2 separate regions of the Homo sapiens genome follow, and region 1 is linked to region 2. The links come from fine-mapping of genetic effects on gene expression. A gene starts in region 2. The other region holds a variant in brackets. All regions are shown on one strand. Distances are between the middles of the regions. Region 1 overlaps IKZF3 (IKAROS family zinc finger 3). Region 2 holds the start of GSDMB (gasdermin B).

The links. PIP is the estimated chance that this variant, and not a neighbour inherited with it, causes the effect.
Region 1: its variant is fine-mapped to the expression of GSDMB in whole blood (TOPMed, PIP above 0.99).

The regions. Positions count from the first base shown.
Region 1 is chr17:39,819,118-39,823,510 of GRCh38, reverse strand. All of the region lies in intron 3 of IKZF3 (IKAROS family zinc finger 3), which reads left to right. Among named protein-coding and RNA genes, the nearest start is that of IKZF3, 43 kb to the left of the region's middle. The variant G/A (reference allele first, on the strand shown) is at 2,321.
Region 2 is chr17:39,916,434-39,920,747 of GRCh38, reverse strand. GSDMB (gasdermin B) reads left to right here and starts at 2,113. Exons shown (of 11, transcript NM_001165958.2): 1 at 2,113-2,214; 2 at 3,418-3,666. The coding sequence starts at 3,432. RefSeq lists a cis regulatory region at 1,847-1,860, promoters at 1,839-2,201, 2,925-3,333, 2,884-3,513 and an enhancer at 4,065-4,314.

The sequences.
Region 1 (4,393 bases), 97 kb after region 2:
ATTGTCTTTGTAATTAACATTAGGCACCTCATTACTTATGCAAATTTATGCAGCTGGTTTGAATTTCTCCTCAAAATGGGTTTTTCTTTTCTATCACATTGTCAGGCTGCAAATTTTCCAAACTTTTATGCCCTGCTTCCTCTTGAACGCTTTGCTGCTTAGAAATTTCTTCCACCAGATACCTTAAATCATCTCTCTCAAGTTCAAAGTTCCATAGATCTCTAGGGCAGGGGCAAAATACTGCCAGTCTCTTTGCTGAAGCATAGCAAAAGTTACCTTTGCTCCAGTTCCCAAGCAGTTCCTCATCTCCATCTGAGACCACCTCAGCCTGGACTTCATTGTCCATATCACTGTCAGCATTTTGGTCGAAACCATTCAACAAGTCTCTAGGAAGTTCCAAGCTTTCCCACATCTTCCTGTCTTCTGAACCCTCCAAGTCTCTAGGAAGTTCCAAACTTTCCCACATTTTTCTGTCTTCTTCTGAGCCCTCCAAACTGTTCCAACCTCTGTCTTTTACCCAGTTCCAAAGTTGCTTCCACATTTTTGGGTATCTTTATAGCAGCACCCCACTCTCTGTGGTGCCAATATACTGAATTAGTCCACTCTCACACTGCTATGAAGAAATACCCAGCTGGGCACGGTGGCTCATGCCTATAATCCCAGCACTTTGGGAGGCTGAGGCAGGCAGATCATGAGGTCAGGAGATCGAGACCATCTTGGCTAACATGGTGAAACCCTGTCTCTACTAAAAATACAAAAAATTAGCTGGGCGTGGTGGTGGGCACCTGTAGTTCCAGCTACTCAGGAGGCTGAGGCAGGAGAATGGTGTGAATCCAGGAGGCGGAGCTTGCAGTGAGCCAAGATCGCGCCACTGCACTCCAGGCTGGGCAACAGAGCAAGACTCCATCTCAAAAAAAAAAAAAAAAAAGAAAGAAATACCCAAGACTGGGTAATTTATAAAGAAGAAAAGAAGTTTAATTGACTCACAGTTCTGCATGGCTGGGGAGGCCTCAGGAAACTTACAATCATGGCAGAAAGTACCTCTTCACAGGGTGGCAGAAGAGAGAGTGAGTGCCAGAGGGGAAATATCGGATACTCATTAAACCATCAGATCTTGTGAGAACTCACTCACTGTCACGAGAACAGCATGGGGGAAACCACCTCCATGATTCATTTACCTCCCACTGGGTCCCTCCTATGACATGGGATTATGGGGCTTACAATTCAAGATGAGATTTGGGTGGGGACACAGCCAAACCATATCACCTGGGTAATGGGCATATTCAATGTGTGAATCTTGATTATCACAAAGCCAGTTCCACATGGCTTGCATATGAAGCATATCAGCTGCTTCATCTGGGGTATTCCAGTTGGCATTGAAAGGGGAAGTCAGATAGTTCCCTTTCTCAGGGTAAATAGACCTTATAATGGCTCTTATCTGGTCCACCAGGTCAGCTGTTCCCTTAGGAATGACCTGCTCTGTGTCTGGATCATGTGTAGCCATCTGTGATTGTTCCATAGTGAGCTGTGGATCCTATATAAACCCAAACATGCTCTTCCACTCTGAAGCATTTAAAAGCCAAGATACTGCCCCTAAATTATTTATTCTTACAATTCATTTTAGTCAAAATTCTTTAGGAAGCTGATGGTACTGATCTACAAAATAAAGTAACTCTTTCACACTATACCCCCTGGTTTCAGTAGTTTCTTGGTTTTGCCCTCCCCTACCTGGACTCTCTTTTTGGTGACCAGAGATCTTAGAGGTATTTTCTGTTTTTCCCACATATTTTTTCCATTAGAGGCAGCTTTGGGTCTAGCATCCGAAGTTCAGGCCCACCAGAATCTGAGCGTGGTTCAGCATCAAGGTCCAACCCAACACTCTTTTTAACTTTCATTTTAGCTGTTGCAGATAACAATAACCATTGGATTGTGTATTTCACTTTTTTCTTATTAGTTTGCATTTCCTTAAGCATTCAGTGAACCAGCTCCCCAGGAGTTGGGTTCATCTTTAAATTTCACTGGTAACTTTTACCTTTAGTAACTGATCACAGCCCCTTTGCTGCTCCTTAGGTGACTATATGGCCACTCAGGAATCAAAATTTCCTCATCCCCTACCCTTTTATTTTATCCTTCCAAACCATATGTTTCTGTGAGCCTGGGCTGATCTAGCAAATCCCACTCCAATTCTGGGGTGTTTTCCATCCACAACCAAATCTCTAGGCCATTCCGTTGTTGGGTGTCCAACAATTCAATTCAATTCTGATACTAACTCTGAGAATTAGTACAGACCACACAGGTTAAGGGCTCAGTCCCACAGACC[G/A]CCCCTACTTCAGACACCAGTCTCAAGTACCAGGCCCTCAGGTGACCCACACTTCTTCCAACTTGGGCAAATTTGAGTGTTCCCACATCCTTCCTCAGGTTTAGTAATTTTCTGGAATGACCCACAGAGCTCAAAAAGTTTCTTTACTTATCATTACCAGTTTATTATAAAAGATACAACTCAGGAACAGCCAAATGGAAGGGAGGCATAGAGCAAGGAAGGGGTGACGTGGAGCTTCCATACTTTCTCTGGGCATGCCACACCCCCAGCTCCTGAAGCTCTCTGAATCTTGTTGTTCAAGAACGTTTATAGGACTCAATCTCCAGCTCCCTTTCCTCTCTCTTCTTCCCTGAGGTCACTGGGTGGGGCTGAAAGGTCCAACGCTCTAATTACCAGGTCCTTCTGGTGAACAGCTCCATCCTGAGGCTGTCTAGTGGCCCCAGCCTCAGCTACCTCGTTAGCATAATCTAAGGTGCTATTGAAAGGGGCTCGTTATGAATACAAAAGACACTCCTGCCCCTGCTACTTAGAAGCTGAGGCAGGAGGATCTAGTGAGAAAAACAAAACAAAACAAAACAAAGCAAAACAATACTCCTATCACTTAGGAAATTCCAAGGGCTTAGAAGTTCTGTGCTTGATCCTGGGAGCAGGAACAAAGACCAAATATGTTTTTGTATTATACCACAGTTTGGAAAGTTCATTGAAATAGAAAGAAAAAAGAAAACCCCACCTCTATCCTACCACCCAAAGATAGTCTCTAATAGCATTACAGAGTACTTACTTCCAGGCTTTTTTGTGAGTTTTGAGCATTATATTCACATTAATATTGCTCACATTTTATAGTGATATTTATGTTGATAAATCTAATCACTTTTGCTTTATGAATGTTACTCTGTTACTCAGATCTCATCTTAAATGTCATTTCTTCAGAAAAGCTTTTCCTGACAATTCAGTCACTATTTTAACACAGCCCTGTTTTAATTCATCGCATGACACTGAACACAGATAACTTTGGAGTTTTGTTTAGTGTCTACTCTCCTTCCAGCCTTCTTGGGCTATTTTTTTCCTTGCTAGATATTTACAGTACCTAGAACAGTACCTGGCCCTACTGTGGTAGGTGTGCAATAAATATTTGTTGAGTAAGTGACTAAATGAAAGCCCTAGGTCAGTTATATGTGTGTATACATGAGTTTCTTAAAGGAAGAAAAGAAAATAGGCTGGGTGCAGTGGCTTGGCTCACGCCTGTAATCCCAATACTTTGAGAGGCCAAGGTGGGCGGATTTTTCTGGAGGTCAGGAGTTCGAGACCAGCCTGGGCAACATGGTAAAACCCCATCTCTACAAAAAAAAAATTTTTTTTTAATTAGCTTTGTGTGTGCCTGTAGTCCCAGCTACTTGGGAGGCTGAGGTGGGAGGATCACTTGAGCCCAGGAGGCAGAGGTTGCAGTGAGCCAAGATTGCACCACTGCACTCCAGCCTGGACAATAGAGTGAGACTCCTTTTCAAGAAAAGAAAATCATTTCTCAGAGTCTTTTTCTTTTGTCTTAAATTTCTTAAGAGACCAAGAAATTGAGTTATTTGTCTAAAACTTCTGAGATTCAAATCACAGCTTCAACTAACATTCCAGCTGTACTGAGCTATACATTAATTTGTACCAGTTTTTAACCACAGAGACAGAAAAATGCTGCCTGGCACAGGATGTGGTCATTTGTGCTGAGGAAAGGCATATGATGTTGTATCAGCTTCGTGCAACTTCTTGAAGGTGACATCCATGGAGTCTCACTCAGAATGAGGCAAATGATAGCTGTGCCTGTGGCTTGTTTTTTTTCTGAGTTACAGTTTCTGAGTTCTGGTAGGTAATACCATTAAATTTGTAGTTGAAATAGTGATCCCTATGCCACTGTTGGTTTGGGAATTTATAATTTATGTTATAAATTTACTTTGGGTTCAGGGGTAGCCTATGAGTTTTATATTTTCAGATAGTTTGTGGTAAAAAAAACAGATTAAATACTCAAACATAAACAAGAAACCAATAATTTCCATTCAACAATAGGAATTTAAAATAAATATTGTA
Region 2 (4,314 bases):
AAGGAGGGGGACACTCCAGCAATGGTTTACACGTGGAGCCAGGGTCCCAAGTGGTGCTCAGTCCTTCCCAGTGAATCCCCAGCCCTTCTCCAGTTTCTCACTTCTCTCCCCAAGGCCTTTCCCCAGTCACCTCTCCCTTGGGAGCGCTGCGTTTCCTTCTGGCCTTTCAGTGGAGGGGACTTTTCATACTTCCTCCTCCCACCATAAGCCTGAGTGGCAGGGGAAGAGGTTCTGGGGACTTTCTGAGGCCAACATGGCTAGGAGAGAGAGGAGTCCTATAGCAAGGAATCCTTATCTCACGAGGGCACTGACCTTCCAGCGTGTTCTGGGGAGTATCAGCTGCTATTCCCAGGAGAGGCACAAAGTCCCAGGTAGAAGGGAGGAGCTGTCCCCAGCAGCCTGGGGTCTCTAGCCCCGGTCCACCATCACAGCACCCTTGGAGTGAGTGTCAGGGAGTGTGGGATATTTGCCCAAGTCCAGCCACCACCCCTGTCCGAGTAGAGCCCACACAGTATTGGAAAGAGAAATATAGCCACTGCTTTCACTCCTGGGAGTAGGGGTGCCCTGGTTGCTTTCACCAGCCTGCAAGAGTATAGTCAGGGTGAGGTGCTGGAGAACATCAACAACGATCTGGGTTCAAATCCCAGCTTTGCCACTTATTAGCCATGTTGCTGTGTCAACTTCTCTGAGCTTCAGTTTATTCCACTGTTGTGTAAAGATAATGCCTCTTAGGGCTGTTGTGAGCATTAGCACAGTGCCTGGCATATAGTAAATACTCAATATATGGTAGCCATATTATTATAATTGTAATTGTTACTACCACCACTGTCGTCTATTTATTTATTTATTTATTTATTTTTTTGAGACTGAGTCTTGCTCTGTTGCCCAGGCTGGAGTGCAGTGGCACCATCTTGGCTCACTGCAACCTCCGCCTCCCAGGTTCAAGCAATTCTCATGCCTCAGCCTCCTGAGTAGCTGGGATTACAGGTGTGTGCCAAAACATCTGGCTAATTTTTTTTTTTTTTTTTTTTTTGGTAGAGACGGGGTTTCGCCATGTTGGCCAGGCTGGTCTTGAACTCCTGGCCTCAAGTGATCTGCCTGCTTCGGCCTCTGAAAGTGTTGGGATTACAGGCATGAACCACCACGCCTGGCCTGTCATCCCTTCAAATGTTCTTTCAGAACTGAGGCATGCAGAGGCTGGAAGACAGGCTGGGCTCACCGGGGTGGTTATCTCTGAGAGAGGACATGGGTGAGGTCAGAGGCCTCTCCCTGGAGAAGGAGGTAGGTGGAGAAGCCAGATGGCATCCAGATAAGGAAGACCAGCATCTCCTTGAGAGTGTACACGGGAGCACGAGATGGGGAGGGAGGCTGAGTGCTCCTTACAGGCCCACCCTGTTGCCTCCAGGTGTTAGCTGCTGTTGTCCTGGGTCTTCAGTGTTGACCGTCGCATGGCATTTGGGCAGCTGGTTCTGCTGGGTTATGGTCCTCATGTCCCTGGCACAGACACAGCCATTGCCTGCTGGCACTTGATACCTACTCATATTCCATTTCTCTATTCCAAACACACTGGATTGCATGGCCCAGGGCGCCACGGTGTGCACCATTGTCTGGCCCACACTCACCTAGAATACATACCAGGATCTCCTACCCACTCCTTAGGTACAAGAAGAAGAAGGGGTTCTGGCCGGGCATGGTGGCTCACACCTGTAATCCCAGCACTTTGAGAGGCCGAGGTGGGTGGGTCACAAGGTCAGGAGATTGAGACCATCCTGGCTAACACGGTGAAACCCCGTCTCTACTAAAAAACACACACAAAAAAATTAGCTGGGCGTGGTGGCAGGCACCTGTAGTCCCAGCTACTCGGGAGGCTGAGGCAGGAGAATGGCGTGAACTTGGGAGGCGGAGCTTGCAGTGAGCCGAGATTGCGCCATTGCACTCCAGCCTCGGCGATAGAGCAAGACTCCGTCTCAAAAAAAAAAAAAAAAGGGGGGTTCTGGCCTTAATCTGCCTCCAGCTCAGTTATAAGGTGGCTTATCTAAAGGCTTGGGAGGTGGGGCACCCAGCCCTACCCACCCGTCCAGGAAGTTCCACACCTGGACAACTTTCAGTTTCATTATTTTAGCTTCCTGAGATTCAGAGGCCAGGAACTGTGCAGAGATCTGTGGGGATTCTCACAACTTCCATTTCTGGTGAACAGCTGAGGTCAGAGAGGAGGTGGGTACCACTTGAGATGGGCCTGTGGTTCCCGGGTACTGTCTTTCCAGACACCTAGAATTCCCAGGTTGGTAGTGAACTGAGAGTCAACCACCATGATGGGGCCAGAGACAGAGGAGGAAGCAGTGAGTGGATAAGTGCCTGTGCTGGGCAGAAGGGATATAGGGGAAGGTGGCCAAAGGTAGGATGGGGAAGTGGATCCCAGGAAGCTTTTGTTTCTTCTGAGGCCAATTTACCACCACCTCATTGGGAAATTGTTGGTAGGGAGGCACCCATCCAATTGCCTTGCAGAATACAGCAAGGCAGGGAGCCCAAGAATCAGAGCCAAGGGAAGAAACGACCAGTTGAGGTTAGTAATGTGAAGTCTGGCAACCGTGCCCGTCATTCCTCCCTGGTTCCTCTGTTCATCAACGTTGGGGCTAGTCTGGCTGGGGCATGGTGGGCCTGCCTTTCCATCCCTTGGGCCCCTTGGAACAAGGGGGCAACTCTGCTGTGGGAGATGTAGAAAATGGGTCTCACTTTCTCTATTTGGGGCAATAGCTGCTACTTTTTTCCTCCAGATGGGTACCATGAGGGGCAGAGGAGAATCTGGGATCTGTGATGTTTAGCCCTCTTTACTGAGTCATGGCTGCCTCACGTTCTAGAAGTAAGGCAGGCAAATCATTCCAGGTACTGATTGTCCTGGAACCTTTGGCTCTTCCTTGACCTCATGTCACGTGCGTCCATGTGAAGAGAGTCCACGAAACGGGCTTTATATGAGCAACAAGGCTGGGTGCAGGCAAGCTGAGTCCAAAAAAGGGGTCAGCAAAGGGTGGTGGCATTATCATTAGTTCTTATATGTTTGGGATAGGCTTACAAAGTACATTCTCAAGGGTGGAGAAATATTACAAAGTACCTTCTTAAGGGCAGGGGAGAATATTACAAAGTACCTTCTTAAGGGCGGCGGCGGGGAGACTATATTGTATCAGGGTGGGGCAGGAACAAATCACAATGGTGGAATGTCATCAGTTAAGGCTATTTTCATTTCTTTTGTGGATCTTCAGTTGCTTCAGGCCATCTGGATGTATACATGCAGGTCACAGGGAATATGATGGCTTAGCTTGGGTTCAGAGGCCTGACACCTCAGGCTGCCAAATGTGGAAGATTTAAATACTTGAACCAATACCCTCCTCCCAAAAACTGAAATTGGCTTCTGTTTCTGAGTTGGTCCAGGCGCAATGTTCAGCGTATTTGAGGAAATCACAAGAATTGTAGTTAAGGAGATGGATGCTGGAGGGGATATGATTGCCGTTAGAAGCCTTGTTGATGCTGATAGATTCCGCTGCTTCCATCTGGTGGGGGAGAAGAGAACTTTCTTTGGATGCCGGCACTACACAACAGGCCTCACCCTGATGGACATTCTGGACACAGATGGGGACAAGTGGTTAGATGAACTGGATTCTGGGCTCCAAGGTCAGTATAAGGTAGATGACAGGTGGCCAGCCAGGAGGCCTTGACCGTTTGTACTCCATCTCCTTCTCAATTCCCCATTGTTATCAACCAATCAACAACGAAACTGTGGGATTTGTACACATCCACACACCTTAATTTAAGAAATGCACGGAAGAGCTGCATGGTGGGAGGAGAGTGGGAGAAGTGGAGATTTATTTCCACTGGAAACCGTTCCTAAATGGTCTTCCTTTTCCATTTTTTCCCTTGTAAAATAATCTGCTTTTAATTTAGCGAGCTCTTCTCATGTGTTTATCATTTAAATGAATAAGTAAATGAGGGCAGTTTGCTTACTGGTTAAGAAAGGATGCAGGCTTTAGGGCTGGAAGCACCTGGTTTCAAAGCCTGGCTCTGCCTCTTATCAGCTGCGTAACCTTTGGACAAGTTGTTTTATTGCTCTAAGTTTCAGTTTCCTCCTGTGTCAACTCTAGAGGACTGTTGTAAGAATCAAGTGAGGGATGGGTGCGGTGGCTCACTCCTGTAATCCCAGCACTTTGGGAGGCCGAGGTGGGCGGATCACGAGGTCAGGAGATCGAGACCATCCTGGCTAACACAGTGAAACCCCGTCTCTGCTTAAAAAAAAAAAATACAAAAAATTAGCCAGGCGTGGTG